2 separate regions of the Homo sapiens genome follow, and region 2 is linked to region 1. The links come from fine-mapping of genetic effects on gene expression. Tissue or cell type: lung. Region 1 holds a variant in brackets; the other region holds the start of a gene. All regions are shown on one strand. Distances are from middle to middle.

Region 1 (8,256 bases):
ATAAAAGGTCCATTTATACATACATGGTAACAAGAGATAACAAACAGTTTTGAAGTATGCTGTATTTATAAATTATAATGGTGGCCTACACTTGTAGTTCAGCCAAAGTGGCATTCTCTAAAGCAAAATTCTTATAAAATCTTCTCTGCAATACCAAGCTGCAAGTTTAACAATTTTTTAGCTTTGAAGTGAACCAACTTTATATTTAACTCAAACACATACTTTAAAAACATTTTCGGCCCCAAACTCTATGTTCACGAAGAAATAAAAATGGAGGAAAATCTCAAGTATAATCGTACCTTTACTATTCTATAAAATGCAGCAATATATTTTAAAAACTGTTGCATTTAAAGGTCAACCCACTAGATTTTTAACACTAACAGTCCAAGGTGTTATCAACCCCACTTAAAATTCAACTGTATAAAGCTTTCAGAACTGGGCCACACAGGTGTACTTCACTGAGCACTTTCCACCCATGGCCTAAAGGCAGGAGGTGTGGAAGTCCCCTCCAGGGAGACCAACTGCAGCCCCATACACTGTCACACGCATAAAACTTCTTTCAAGTTTTGTGTTCTATCTTAAAAATGAATTTGCACTATACTCCATGCCATTTACTTTAATATAAAAATAGTGTTTCAAATCGCTTACCAGTTAAATAACTCATCTTCCCTCCCACACCTCCAGGCACCAGACAGGCAGAGCCCAGCCTGGGAAGCCTAGCTTTCCACAGATAGGTAAGCCAGGCGCGGCAAGATGAGACTGTATTCAGTTAGGTCTATTTTAAGCATTTCCACAAATCATTTTATTCCTTCAGGTTGTAACTAAATGCTTCAGGAAACTATGACCGACATCAATTCCAATGTGTTGAATAATCAATCAGTCTATGTATTTTAGTGGTTTAAAGATTAATCTTTTGTTAAACAAAGAAATTTGTTAATTTTATTTACTAACAGGAATAAATAGAACCCCTAACCTAAAGTATAACCTGATCTTTTACTTTTTCTATAGAAAAACACAAACTGGATTTCTTTTTAACATAAAAAAGACAACACAAAACCCACAGAAAAATAAAATTCTTCTATCTAACTGGCTTTACAGATTTCCCTCATTAGTTGTGGATGTGACTTTGGTGGCTCTGGGTCACCCACCGCAAGCCCGACCCTGCAACTGAGTGTTCAGGCTGCCTTGTGGTGTCTCGGAAGCATTCCTACCAGAGTAAAAGCTATTCTCCTGAGATGGCACCTTTTTCTCCAGAAGATTCAGCCCTAACAGCTGCCACCTTGAAGGATGTATTTCACTGTCACAGGAAGCAGCCAAGTATGGGGGCCATGGTCCCGGCATGCACCTGGCTGGCTACACGCCCCGCCCCTCAGGAGTCCTCAGAGTCCACTGGCCTCTGCTGCTACTGCCCTGAAAGCCATCTGTGGCTTTAACTGGTTGTTTTAACAGGTTTCAAGAGATGTTCATTTTATTTTTTGTTTAGATTTAAGATGTCCTAAAAAATGTATATATTAAGATACACTTAAAAACATACTCTGAATATAATAAAAAAGATGTTGGTTCAAAAAAGGGTCAACAAGAAGAGGAAGCCAAGCTTCCTAGCATCTGTTTTTGTGGCCACGCTTTTCCCCATTAATGGTGTGAAAGTCTGAATCAACAGCAAATACAGCCATACAGACCTATGTATCTGTGTGCATGAGTGTGCATGGGTGTGCACACAGAGAAGTACATCTTGGCCGACTTAAGAAAAAATTATCTGTGTTGTGTCCCACAAACACTTGCTGTTGGCCTTTCAAGAGTATTCACCTCCCTGCCGAAGAGACAGCTTGAGTATGGAGGTTTAAAAACAATCCAGACAGGTGCTCCCTGTTGCCCTCGTTACCTAGGATTGAGGCAGTTTGGTGCACGTATTACAGTACCGAAAGCAAATGTCACTTTCTGATCTCCACAGGAACCACTCCCTAAAACATGAAACTACTGACCAACACTTGCTTTCCTCCGCATAGCACTTTGTCTGTGTTCATATGTGTCAACACAACTGGACTAAGAAAGAAAAGTCCCAATAAGGAAGTTTCCTTTTTTGACTACAGAGTGCCATACAGTCAGTGGGATGTTTTCTGTTGGTTGTTTTTAAATCATAAGTAACTGGGTATTAGCAATTGACAAAAGTGACTGGTTTGAGGTTTTGTAGGCAGAGGTCTCTCACTTTTTTTCTCAGATTTTTGCTCCTTAAAAAAAAGGCATGGTTTGCATGGAGTTTCAAAGCTAAGAACTATTGTTACCATGGTTGACCTGTGTACATAATGCACTGTGCATTAAGTAGCCCTTAATCAAGAGAGGGTTAACCATAGTGTTCCTCCCTTTTGCTCTTCTGTACATTATAATGTAGCAGAACTTCATTCTTAACATCCAGATTAGAGGTGTCTTCTTCATATTAGATATAAATTAACCAGAGGTCTAGAACTCTAAATTTCCAGAGATGTGAAAAATGTTTAATTTACTTCAAAAATATCTTGCATAAGTATCTCATCCCTAAGCTCAAACAAACAAGAAAATTAAAGGCAGAAAGAATACATAAAATTGAGAGCTCCTCCTATAATACATATACACACACTCTCGATATAGGTTCTACGCAGTAAAAGGAGTTGTTTCAGCTAATATAGCTTCTAATATCGATTTCATCTGAAAATAGCCTTTCTGGGTGTCTTGCCAGCATCATACGAAACAGCAGTACTTCTTCCACCAGGACTTGGAGAGGTTTTTCATTTTATCTGGAGTCCTGCTTTTAGACTTCTTTGGCTGTTGCTGAGTGTCCGAGTATTGAATGCCAGCGACGATGGCTGCATCAAAGACCTCTTTGAGGTTTTTTTGAGTCAAGGCTGAACACTCGATGTAGGAGGCGGCTTTGATTTCCTCGGCGCACAGCTTAGCCGCCTCTTCAGGCACTGGCTTTTCTTTGCATTTGTCCAACTCAATGAGGACTTTGACATCTTCTCTGAGATCCGACTGCGTTCCAACTAGGATGATGGGGGCTTTGGGACAGTGGCATCGAATCTCCGGCACCCATTTCTCACTGACGTTCTGGAAGGATGAGGGGCTCACGACACTGAAGCAGAGCAGGAAGATGTCTGTGTTGGTGTAGCAGAGAGGCCTCAGCTTGTCAAATTCATCCTGCAACCAAGCAAAGTACCCAAAAGTTATGTTTTCATGAATTCTCATCAGTAAAAAGATCACCTTCACATTTTTCATGAAAGGGTCTGGCAGGTGATAGAAGACCCGCTGGTTCTAGAAGGAAGAGCCAGCATCCTTGAAACGATCCTACTGTTTACCCAAGCGGGGCCAGTGCACCAGCGAAGGTGTGGCAGCCATCTGCTTTCAGGGCCAGCTATGGTCTGAACACTGCCAAACATGTTCAACGTGTTCATCGACACTCAAGACCTACTTACAGCTTAACATAGAAAAAGTGCTCAAAGTAGGTGGGTTCTAGAAATAAAATGGACTTAAGCCTTCAGCTGAGTGTAACCCAAACCTACTCTCAACTCTTGGTACTTAGCTACTCTTCTAAAATTCAGACCACACCCATATTGATCCTCAAGACTCCCACTCAAACCCAGTCTACGAACACAGCTCCTCTCTTTATCAATCCAGCCCTGCCTTTCCCAACAGCTCTGAGTGATGCCAATTTCATCCCATCTGCACTGTGCACACGCTCTGCCCACACTATGCACAGCAACGCAGAGTAATGCTAATCAGACTCAAGGCCAGACCAGAAATGGAGTTGAGGACCTTTGTCAGTCCATTGTCATCGTGACTCAGAAAACTTTTGCAGCTCAGTGCCACTTACAGACACTAGTTAA[T/C]ACATCCTCATTCTGGCTGTATCTTCTCTTCCTCCCTCCTTCCTTCATTTTCTCCTACTTCCTTTATCCTTGCCAGTACCCATGGCCTCCATGTACAGTGCTTTGGACAGATAAGAACTGGAGAATAGGCACGCCCACCCTACCCTTAAAGTATAGAGAAGTGGATAGAATAAGTTAGAGTTGATTACAAATAAACCAACGGTTGTGCTGCCAATGCTCTCCCGTGGTCATCCATTTAACAGACACACTGAACATCACCTACACTCAAGGCACAGTGGCAGGCGAGGGGATTTGGCTGTGAACAGACAGATGTTGTTCTCCAAATTACCATTTCTTTACAGAAAACATCCTATAGTTCCCTGTAGCACCATATTCAGCTAACTGACAACTTTTGCTCAACTCTTTTGTAGAAAAATATTTACTCTTTCCTATGTAAAATGTATATCTGTTGGTGCCAACCATCCTCAGGTATAAATAATTTCCCAATGACAAGAAAAAGTTCAACGCCATTCATGTTTTTCATTACTCAATTGACACACTCCGATTATTTACCAAGTACCATTTACATCACATTATACTCCATCCGTGGCTTTTTTCTCTTGGTATAAAAGAAACCTGTAACTTATTTGAATGTACTTTCTTCATTTGAGGCCCCATGTTTCAATTACGGGACGACAGCCAACCAACTAATCACATTAAAGTCAACCAGCTAAAATGCTCAGCAATCAATGTGGTATTTCAGAATGTCACTTGTGAGGCTTCTGTAAGCGAAAGTTGAAAAAGTATGACTTAGCCAAATGTGGTGGCACGTGCCTATAGTCACAGTTACTTGGGAAGCTGAGGCAGGGGGATCACTTGAGCCCTGGAGTTTGAGACCAGCCTGGGTGACATACCAAGACCCTGCTCTCTAAAAAAAATTTTTAAAAAGAAAAATAATGACTTAAGTTTCTTCATGCCAACTTTGTGATGAATAAATAAACACAGAAACACAGCCAGGTAGACTATGGCTCAGTCATGAAGATCTTTTAATGGAATGCTCCCTCTGTTCTTAGAGGGCCTCAAAGAAAGAAGCATAAAACTGAGACCAGTATTAAGGCAGCCCCCTCAGGTAGCTGCACCCCTGGCCATGCCCTGGTATCTGGGGTTGCATTACTGAGAAAAATAAAGGCAAGCACAAGGGCTGGGACTTCTGAGGGGGCTTTGGAAAGCTATCTCCCCAGATCTCTTGAGATTCTGGCTAAGGGGCTTGAGAAATAAAACAGAAATTAGACCCTCCTGCTCAGTGCCTGACCTGAAATCTTAGAAATAATGCAATACACACGTGCAATGAGGACAACTGGAATGCACCCTTAAGAAAAGGCGTTCTGAGGCCAAGCAATTTGCATGTGCTTGCCAGGTCTGTGGTACGGACACTGCACAGAAGTCTGATCAGGGTTGGCGGGGCAGAGAGACGAGACTGGATTCTACATCCCTCTGGTCTAGCTGCAACTTGATTTTTTTTTTTCAGTATAAGATTTTTCCAAGTACTTTATGGGTCAAAAGGCTGAAGAATTTTCAGCTTCTATTGGCAACTCTCCAGTGAACTACTCCTATTTCCGCAATACTTTTTTCTCTTATGCCAAAGGTATGTTTTTTCAAGCCTCCAGTCTGTCTCTGATCAATCTGCCCTTGAGTGATGTAAGACCAGTGTTAAAAACTCCTTTTGACATCTTATAGACTCGCCTACCCTCCCTAACAAGAAAAGCCAAAGTACAAGAAGTGATTTCTTCAGCATGTAGAGCCATCCATACTCTGCTCCCATCAACTTCTGTGGGAAACCCACACTCCAGCTCCACATCCCCAAGTTCTAGCCTATCTGTGCTCACGTTGATTCTCCAGGCATCTGAAGTGGAGGTCAGTGGAGTCACTTAACCCTCAAGGCTCTTATGTCAACTGCCTAGAAGAGGTATGTGTTCCTTCCTCCATAAGGAAACTTGGCAGGTATCACAGCAAGTCCCTTAAAATGTATTTTATCAGATCAGGACTAGGGAGAGTAGAAAAGAACTGCCACTTTGACCAGCTTGGCTAGTAGTCTAAACAAAGACTAATTTATAAATGGGGGATCAGGAAAACAAAAACAGAACAACTGACTTATCTTACCAGCAGCTTATTTTTCATAGTTTTTGAAGATGGTTCTTCTTCAAAAGTTTTGAAGTTGGTTCTAAAAGTCTACAAATTTTTAGATAGTGGTCTTATTCATTATTTAATTGGGTATACTCTTCTAACCAGTACACAAAGGTTAAGAAATACAGTAAATCTCATTGAAAATATTGCTAAGAGGCCAGAAGAATAATTTTCAAATAAACTGAAACTTACAAATGTAGCACCAAAACCTTCGTTTTTCCCTAATTATAAACTTTTTTGTGCAAAAATACTACTAAAGTGATGCTTGTGCTTCCCTGATTTTTAAACAGGAACAATTTAACTCTTCCTTGATGATTCAGTCATTTATGCAAAGTTCTTCTGGTAAAATTCCTATTTGTCTTTCAAAACTCTGCTCAGAGGTTTTCCTGCCAGGCCCAACCAGCCTGCACCTCTAAGCCCGAACCTCTTTTCTTCCCTTTGCTTGCTCCTTCACGAGCTTCCATTTGTCTTCCCTCCACACTGTAAGTCTATTAAGGGGCAGGCCCACAACTTATGTTTATACCCCCACCACCTGGTCCTTCTCTGGTTCATCCATTCTAAAACCACGAGATTAAGCCCTGCTATGTGCCAGGCACTATGCTGGGCACTGGGCATGAAACCCCAGCTCAAGAAGCTGCATCCTGCTTGAAGAGCCAACACTTACGGGGAGCCCAGTGGACAGTGATATTTGAGTGACATCCTGGGGCAGGTAGGTGCACTGAGCTTCTGCTCCAGCCCGTAAGGCTCCCTGCTAACTGTGCCTTTGGACTTCCTGTATTTTCCTGACTTCCATCTTATCCTCAGGGTCTGACTTCAGCAGGTCCGATGGCTATGTTTACTGACATGTTCCTCTGCCTGTGTTTTATTTTTTTTGAGATGGAATCTCTCTCTGTCAACCAGGCTGCAGGGCAGTGACGCGATCTCAGCCCACTGCAACCTCCGCCTCCCAGGTTCAAGCAACTGTCTGCCTCAGGCTCCTGAGTAGCTGCTATTACAGGCGCCCGGCACCACACCCAGCTAATTTTTGTATTTTTAGTAGAGACGGGGTTTCACCATCTTGGCCAGGCTGGTCTTGAACTCCTGACCTCATGATCCACCCGTCTCAGCCTCCCAAAGTGCTGGGATTACAGGCGTGAGCAACCGCGCCTGGCTGGCCATGTTTTAAAACTCAGAAAACCTGACCCCCTGGTAGACAAAGCATCCTCACTTCATACAAGGAAATGAAGCTTGAATTATAAATATCACCATTGCATTCAGAAAGATTCAGTGCTAGAAGTGACTGTATTCTTTGATTTTTCTTTTTTTTTACCCCCAAGAGATGGGATCTTGCTCTGTCGCCCAGGCTGGAGTGCAGTGGCACCATCATAGCTCACTACAGCCTCAAACTCCTGGGTTCAAGCGATCCTCTCACCTCAGCCTCCTGAGTGGCTGGTGGCTGGGACTACAGACAGTGCCACCACACCAGGCTAATTTTTTTATTTTGTAGAGATGATGTCTTGCTATGCTACCCAGGCTGGTCTCAAATTCCTGGCCTCATGCAATCCTCCCACCTCAGCCTCCCAAAGAGCATGAGCCACCACACCCAGCCTGATTTTTGTTTTCTACAGACAATACAATACGGACAGTGCTTGGTTTTTCCAAGCTGAAGTGCTCCCAAGCTATGGCCTGCACCAGCCCGGTGTTCCTTGGAGATCAAGGCTCCACGGTCTTATGTCATCTTCAGGTTTAAAAAATAAGATCTGTCCTTAGCTCTGAATCTGCTGTCCCAGAGTAGGTGAGCAACTTGGAAGCTCTGGCGTAGATGAGGCTCTGGGGGGCAGTGGAAAGCCAGTGCCTTCATAAACACAGATAGTCATGTGATGGCACCTCAGAAAGTGAAGGGGGCACTTTCACCTGCCTACAAAGTACCCCCGGAACTTTGCTGAACTCTAGAACATACTAGAGAGACAAGTTCATTAACTATCACTTTGCCAAAATCAAGTACCCCTGGGTGTTCACAAGGCACAGCCTGACTTCAATGACTCGAGTACCCACCAATGGGGGCTTCTTCTGGGGAACACAAAGAGGGAACCCTACACTCCCTGGCTATTTCCTCCAAGGGCCCAGCCCTCGAGACAAGAACCAGCGTTCACAGTTTGGATAGAATAAGCCCAGTTAGTTCATCCCTCCAGCTTAGGACTGCTCTGACAAATGTATCTGTGCTTCAAGTGATGGGGCTGGTCCTAGCGAGTCAAAC
Region 2 (8,000 bases), 600 kb after region 1:
CACACCACACATGTGTACCTGCAAAGGTACACATGCACACGCATACATGTCATTGATCACAAACACACCGGACCCCCAGTTAAAAAGACTCAAGAGGAAGGGAACTGCAGGACACCCACCCAGAAGTCCATGTGCTCTCCATAAGGGATAGACTCCTCCCTCCTTACTGCCTCTTCTGGGCTTTTTGTCACAAGCACACATCGTTTTCATCTCACCATGCACCCCATGCCCTCCTGGCTCTCCCACCCGCAGAATTTGCCCCTGCGCTTAGCTCGGGCCTCCCCACTAACCTGGCTCCTGCTGCTCACCCAGCCCTGCCACCTCCTCTACGTGCCAGCCAACCATCAGCACGCACTGCAGTGGCCAGGGTTCTTTATCCATTCAGCTTCTCCCAGCCAGCGAGCCCTGCAACCTCCACAGCCTGGTTCCCATAATGCACTAGCTAGGAGCCCCCCAGAGTCTCCCACAATCAATGAGCCATGCCACTTGTGTGAATTTCTGGCCCCTGCTTCTCGCCAGGGTGGAAGGGGTACAGTTCTCAGGACACATCCAGCAATTGCTACACACCTACTTGAAGCACTGAGATCACAGAAATTATGACTTGATGGTATTATGGTGACTTTTCTAATACGAAGGAGAAAAAGTAAAGCTAAATCATGTGCTTCGAAGGACCCGATATGGGAGAGCTACTCAAATGGTCCTGTGGGCTGGACCCCATGTGAGCTTCTGTCCTGTTGCTCCACTGAGCTGGCCCTTCTTAAGGTCACTCTGCCCTGCCAACCCACAACCAGCATGGCACTGGTGGGCCTGACAGGGCTGCCCCAAGGCCGGTCCTGCCCTGTTCCCCCCAGCCCCTGGCTCCAAGCTCTTCGGGTCTGAACCTAGATGCTACGTGACTATAAACCCACACAGAAGGAAACACAGTGGTGACCTCCACTGACCAGGCCTCCCCTCCTCCCTCCTGAGGGAGCGCTAAGCTAGTGAAGTGAAGCTGGGCCCACAGGCAGAAGACACCAGTTCGCCCAGCTGCTGCCAGGCAGGGGTCCAGGCTCCAGCCTTGCCAAGGGCGTCGTCTGCACAGCTGTGCCTACACTCGCCCAGCACAGGGCACAAGGCACACGTGGCACATCAATCGCCAAAAACTCTGGGAGTTTTTGCGTCCTCAGAAGGGGGAGAGCCACACCTTCTGAGGATCCCACCAAACTACCACAAGACCCTGGTCTCCATCCCCTCCTCGGCCCCAAACCCCATCCCCGATGCCCAGGAATTGGGGAGCTCGTGCCTCACTTCCAACTCCCAGGAATGGGGGGTGCTGGAGTCCCACCTCTGGCTCCTGGGTTGGGGATCTCCCCCTTTCCTCGCAAGCAGCAAGTGGCAGGTGTGTCTCTTCACCACAGGGCCCTGACAACGATCAGACACCAACAGATGCAACCCAGCACAGAGCAGACAGCAGACGCTGGTGGGCCCCAACCCCGCCTGTTTCCTCCACAGGTGTTGCCCCTGCACCACCCTTACCCCGCCAAGCCCAGGCTCCCAGGCCTCCCCTCCTCCCTCCTGAGGGAGCAGTAAGCTATTGAGGTGAGGCTGGGCCCGCAGGCAGAAGACACCAGTTCACCCAGCTGCTGCCAGGCAGGGGTCCAGGCTCCAGCCTCGCCAAGGGCGTTGTCTGCGCAGCTGTGCCCACTCTCGCCCAGCACAGGGCACGAGGCACACATGACACACCAATTGCCAAGAACTCTGGACGGGCCAACACTCCGCTCTTCCTGGGTCCCCTGAGTTCGGCTCTGCCCAAGCGTGAGGGCACAATGAGCAGACTACTGGGGGCCCTGGCCAGCCAGAGAGTGCAGAGGGCAGACAGTGAGTGGATGCGGGCCTTGCAGAAGCACAGCCACACCACCACCGCTGGAGACAGGGCGGAGGCACAGGCTGCCTGCCTGCCTGGGGAGAGACCAGTGGCAGGGCGGTCACCAAAGCCACCTTCCATGGAGCACACCCAAGGGAGAAAACTGTGGCCCAGGCCTCAAGGCTCCTGCAATCTTGCGGTGGAAACCACGGAGCCTTTGCCCTGACCAGAACACATGCGCCAAAGGTGTCTTCCTGTGGGCAGAGGGAAGCATTCCAGCAAACATTCTGTGCTCTCCACTCTCACCAACCCACAGTCGCAAACTCCAATCAGCTGCCTGGCAAGAAGCCACACAACCCACAACTGTAAGGACCTGCCAGGCACGTGGTCTCCACAGGAGCTCCGAGATGGAAGGTCTCCTGGGAGCCGCCGGCGCAGATCCATGTTCCGGAATGGTCTCTGCCAGAACGCTCCCTGGACTGGGCTCCCATGCTGCCCCAGCAGCCGCTTTCCTGGAAAGGCACTCCCTGCTGTGGCGGCATAATCTCCTCCTTCTGGCTTCCAGCCATCCTAAGGACTGAACAGAGTCACCACCTTGCCCCCGGCCCACTGTTCGAGGAGATGCTAACAGAGGGCTTGACCTTCTGAGAACCGAGAGAATTCAGCCCCCGCCTGGCCTCTCGTAAGACACAAACCACCAGACGTGGGCCTGGGCTCTGGGCTGGGCCAGGTGGATGAAGGGGAGGCTGGTGGTCCAGGCGGCTGCTCTTGGCTGCAGGGTTTCTGGGCACACATCCGGGTAGCACGCATCCTGGCCTTCAGCAACCTCGTTTTAAATGGGACCACACCAGGAGCAGCCAGGGCGCTTTCATTTTCACTTTCTTTCCCCGGGGGGGACAGGAACATTCCTTTACCTCCTGAGGAAATCGGGCTCTTCCAGAGCCACAGAGGAGTGAAGGCCCCAGCCCTTCACGATGCTGCGCGGCTATGTTTGGGTCTGTCCATCAGGGAGAAAGAAAAACCGGCCGAGTCTTGCACAGGGTCCTCGACAGCAACCCCAGGTAAAGAGCAGAGCAAGCCTGAGACAGGAAGGGGCCATGAGCCCAAAGACAGCAGAGCAGGACCCAGCCCGGGGCCTCAGGACCGACCTCTTTCATGCAAAGACGAAACCGAGGCCCACCACACGCAGGGTCAAAATCAACTTTGAGGCACCTGCTTCCCACACCAGTCCTTACTGGGGCATACTTCTAAGGCGACGCTCAAGAATGGCAGCAGGGCAGCTTCAAGAACCCCAACCCGGACTCTGGCTTTGGAGAATCCGAACCCCAAATGCCACACCCATGCGTCGGGAAGGCCTGCTGTTTCCCCAAGTCCCCGTCTCTGCGCCGTGCCGCGGAGTAGGCAGAATCCTGGGAGCCCCGGAATAGCCGGCTCCATCCGCCCAGGACCCCAAGGCTTGCAGGGTGAGGTGGGAACCGGAGCGCACACCGCGCCGGGCCAGCGGTAGGGACTCCCAGCTGCTCTCTTTGGCGGCGCGCCCAGGTGTCGGGAAGACACCGAGCGCTCCTATACGCCCGGGGAGCAGCTCGACACTGCGATAACTGCCGGCCTGCCCAGCTCCTGAGGAGCGCCCCGCCCTCCGGGACCCGGGCTCCGCTGCGTTGCCAGCCCGTCCGCCCTCCAGAGCTCCCCCGTTCTCAGGGCCCACAGTTGAATGCGGCACAGGGCGTCTCGGCTAGGAGGAGATCCGGAGGCGGCGTGGACTGGGCGACCGCAAAGCGCAGGGACCGCTGCCGCCTCGACCCGAGTCACCCTCGCGATCGCGCTTGTCGTACTCACCGTCCGGTGGGGCCCGGCCCAGGGCGGCCGCAGCCAGCCCGGCCAGCGGGCGCCGCAGCATCCGGGGCCACCTCTTCCGCCCACTGAACCTACGTGACAGCGCCGCACCGGCCCACCTCCGCCCGCGCGCGAGACTGACGTCATGAGGCGACTGCCCCGCCCATGTCTCACTCGTTCTTCCCCGCCCCTTAGGGAAGTACTTACCTCAGTGCCTCGCTAGCCCCGCCTCCACCTGCGCTGGCCTGTCGCGACCGCAGGGGCGTTCAGCACAGCGCCCTCCCAGCCCGTCTTCTCCCGCTGCGTCACAGCGCCACGCCGGCCCGCCTCCACACAGCGCGAACTAACATCACGACCCGCCGGCCCCGCCCACGGCGTACTTGTCCCGCTTGTCACTCAGAGAAGTACCTCAGTGCAGCGCGGGCCCGGCTTTCATCTGCTACGTCACAGCGCTGCCTCAGCCCGCCTCCTCCCGCTTATGTCACAGCGCCGTTTCCGTCCTCCATCTACACTGCAGGGACCTAACTAACGAACGACTCCGCTAGCCCGTTCCAAACCGGCCACTCTCCAAAAACCATTAATTGGGGAATGTGGCCGGGCGCGTGGTTCACGTCTGTGATCCCAGCTCTTTGGGAGTCCGAGCCGGGAGGACCGCTTGAGGCCAGGAATTGGAGACCAGCCTGGGGATCATAGGGAAACCCCTTCTGTACCAAAAAATTTAAAAACTTTTTTGTGCCTGTAGTCCTTGCTACTCGGGAGGCTGACGTGGGACGGTCGCTTGAGCCTGGGCAGTCGAGGCTGCAGTGAGCGGTGTTCGTGTCACTGCACTCCAGTCTGTGTGACAGAGCGAGACCCTATTTCTTTCTTTTTTTATTTTTTGAGACGGAGTTTCGCTCTTGTCACCCAGGCTGGAGTTCAGTGACGCCATCTCTGCTCACTGCAACCTGGGCCTCCTAGGTTCAAGCGATTCTCCTGCCTCAGCCTCCCGAGTAGCTGGGATTACAGGCGCCCGCCACCACGCCCAGCTAATTTTTGTATTTTTAGTAGAGACAGGGTTTCACCATGTTGGCCAGGCTGGTCTTGAACTCCTAACCTCAGGTAATCCACCAACCTTGGCCTCCCAAAGTGCTGGGATTACAGGCGTGAGCCACTGCACCTGGCCACGGGACTCTATTTCTAAAAATTATTTTAAATTTTTAAAAAAGATTTATTGAAGGCTGGGTGCAGTGGCTCACACCTGTAATGCCAGCACTTTGGGAGTCCGAGGCAGGCAGATCACCTGAGGCCAGGAGTTTGGGACTAGCCTGGCCAAAATGGTGAAACTCTGTCTCTACTAAAAATACAAAATCAGCTGGGTGTGGTCGTGGGCCCCTGTAATTCCAGCTACTGGGGTGGCTGAGGCAGGAGGATCACTTGAACCTGGGAGGTGGAGGTTGCAGTGAGCCGAGATCAAGCCACGGCACTCCAGCCTAGACGACAGAATGAGACTCCGTCTCAAAAAAAAAAAAAAAAAGTATTGAATGTGAACTGCAGGAGAGCAAGAAAAAAAGTAAAACTTTAAAAAATACAACTTCAAAAAAATGTGTTGGGGCTGGGCACCATGGCTCATGCCTGCAGTCCCAGCACTTTTGGAGGCCAAGGCGGATGGATCACTTGCCCCGGAGTTGGAGACCAGCCTGGGCAACATGGCAAAGCCTTGTCTCTATTTTTTTTAAATACTAATAATAAAACAGTTTGTTGGACAAGGGATTGTAACCTGGAATACATGTGCTATGTCATACCATAGGTGCTGCATTGGGGGAGGTGGGCAAGGAGAAGCTTTTTAGGCAAAAAAAGGGGAAGTTCACTGTCAGAGGCAAAATTATGTCATATGTATTCATAGGTCTCGCTGGCTTTTATTCGTGATTCATGAATTGAGGCAGCCTTCATTCTACAAAATAGAATAAAAGCCCCTGCCTGAATTAGCCAGGTGTGGTGGCGGGCACCTGTAGTCCCAGCTACGCAGGAGGCTGAGGCAGGAGAATGGCGTGGACCCGGGAGGTGGAGCTTGCAGTGAGCTGAGATGCGCCACTGCACTCCAGCTTGGGCGACAGAGCGCGACCATCTCAAAAAAAAAAAAAAAAAAAAAAAAAGCCCCTGCCTGGGCGATAGCAGAACCATGGGTTTTGTAAGGTGAGGAGAACGAGGAAACAAGATAGAAAAATAACAGATTGATAACCTTAGCTTACTTCAGGTTACTCTTTTGTAAGGGTTAGAGAGAAGAAGGGACTTCCTTATTATGCCAACTGAGGAAAAACTAATCTGTTTTGGGATTTAGTTTCTTATGTAGTATTTAACATAAGTGATTTAATTTTGGTTTGGCCTGGTCTATTGGGACCTAGTGCAAGAGCTCGGTCCAAAACAATGGCCTCCCATGATTTTTTAAAAACAATTTTTACCCATTTTGATCAGGCTCTCACCTAGCTTGACCAAAACTTAAAAGTGCCTCTCTCAGTTACTATCAGTTTGGGTTTCTGGTCTCAACATGTCATTGATAGGTTACAGTGTCTTCATGATCATGCTTTTCTTTTCTTTCTTTCTTTTTTTTTTTGAGACGGAGTCTCGCCCTGTCGCCCAGTGCAATAGCACAATCTCAGCTCACTGCGACCTCCACCTCCTGGGTTCAAACAATTCTCCTGCCTCAGCCTCCTGAGTAGCTGGGATTACAGGTGCCCACCACCATGCCCAGCTAATTTTTGTATTTTTAGTAGAGATGGAGTTTCACCATATTGGCCAGGCTGGTCTCAAACTTCTGACCACATGATCCGCCCGCCTTGGCCTCCCAAAGTGCTGGGATTGCAGGCGTGAGCCACCATGCCTGGCCATGATCATGCATTTCTTTGAGTTTGTGTCATTCCAGCTGAAGAGGGACCATTTGATGTTCAATGGATGGTCACATGCAAACATTTAAAACATTTGAAAGGATACAACACACCAGGGAGACTACTATTGTGACTGTCAGGAGGATAATACCAAGGGTTTGGAGTATGTTCCTTAGCCAGAGTCCCTGTGAACCCAACCAACGAAAACTGAATAGATCAAACAATAAGCCAGATGGGGAGTCTACCCATTTTAACCAAGTAGCCTGTTTGTTAATTTTTTGCAGCTGAGTCTACAATACCTGATGTATTTACCCATGTGCAACAAGATGTGTCAGAAACCACACAGACCCCTTCCTGTTCAGCTAGTAGGTAATCTATGTAAAATTAAGGCAGGGAGTGAGAAGAAGTGGGTCTGGTTTGCTTTGATGCCAAACAGTTGCATCAGGGATGTTGCCAAACTTACCCACTAAGTAAACTAAAGGATCTGTTGGGTCATAAAGATGAGAGTCTGGCCTGACAGACCCGATATATTTATCAGGTAACCCACAGAAGCTACTGGTGTGAAATTCTAACTACAGCATTAGCCTGCCAAGTGAAAGAGATAGGCATGAGCAAGGAAAAATTGAGAGGGGCAAGAGGCTAGTCTTCTTTGGATATCTGGGGAAAAGCTTCACAATGTAAAATGGTCAACTTCTGGTCCTGATTTGTAATATGACTGTCTCTGATTATGACAACAGATGGTTTGGTGAACTCTGTATGGTCCACACGTTGGCATGAGACTTGTCCCTTGATGCTTACATCAAGTTGTCCAGCTTAGTAGCTTTGTTCTTAAGGTGGAGAGTTGTCAACATATGTTGGAGGAAACAAGAAGAATTCAGGGTCCAGTCCATTCTGCAGGTAGATAATAAAAACTCTAGAACAACAAACAAGGCTACAATCTAAGAACAAGTGTACTATAATGTTCTTTCTTCTGAAACATACATTTTCTCTTTACAGTTGCCCCTCATTTCTACCAGAGATAATCAGAGTAAGACTAATTTGTTTGCAAAATGTTTAGCCTCATCAAACTTGCCCTGCTTATTTAGGTAAGTTCAGTGAGAATAGCATCAACCACATAGGCTCTTTTAAGTTTGCTTGGGTGGAACTTTAGATCAGGAATCTCAAAATGAACTTTTAAAAATCTTTCGATGCTAGGAAGCCAGTGTAGATAGAATGCGTCTGTAAGTACTGCAGGCAAAGTCTGTATCTACAGTCTCAATTTCGATATCCCAGTCATAATATAACCAATATTTCCAATTGTGTCCTGTTATAAAGAGGGCAGATTCTCCTCCTCCTTCTTCCTCTTCTTTCTTCCTCTTCTTCTGTCAGGGCCTCACTCTGTTGCCCAGGCTGGAGCACAGTGGTGCAATAATAGCTCCCTACAGCCTCAACCTTCTAGCCTCAAGTGATCTTCCCTCCAT

Evidence for each region. PIP is the estimated chance that this variant, and not a neighbour inherited with it, causes the effect.
Region 2: GUK1 starts here. The variant in region 1 is fine-mapped to the expression of GUK1 in lung (TOPMed, PIP above 0.99).

Annotation. Positions count from the first base shown.
Region 1 is chr1:228,738,200-228,746,455 of GRCh38, reverse strand. RHOU (ras homolog family member U) reads right to left here. Exons shown (of 3, transcript NM_021205.6): 3 at 1-3,171. The coding sequence ends at 2,716. Among named protein-coding and RNA genes, the nearest start is that of RHOU, 6.8 kb to the right of the region's middle. The variant T/C (reference allele first, on the strand shown) is at 3,858.
Region 2 is chr1:228,136,046-228,144,045 of GRCh38, reverse strand. It overlaps GUK1 (guanylate kinase 1), which reads right to left and starts at 3,767. Exons shown (of 8, transcript NM_001159390.2): 1 at 3,683-3,767. The coding sequence starts at 3,743. It also overlaps the pseudogene RPS28P3. RefSeq lists enhancers at 1-159, 3,751-3,980, 4,091-4,140 and a silencer at 3,181-3,740.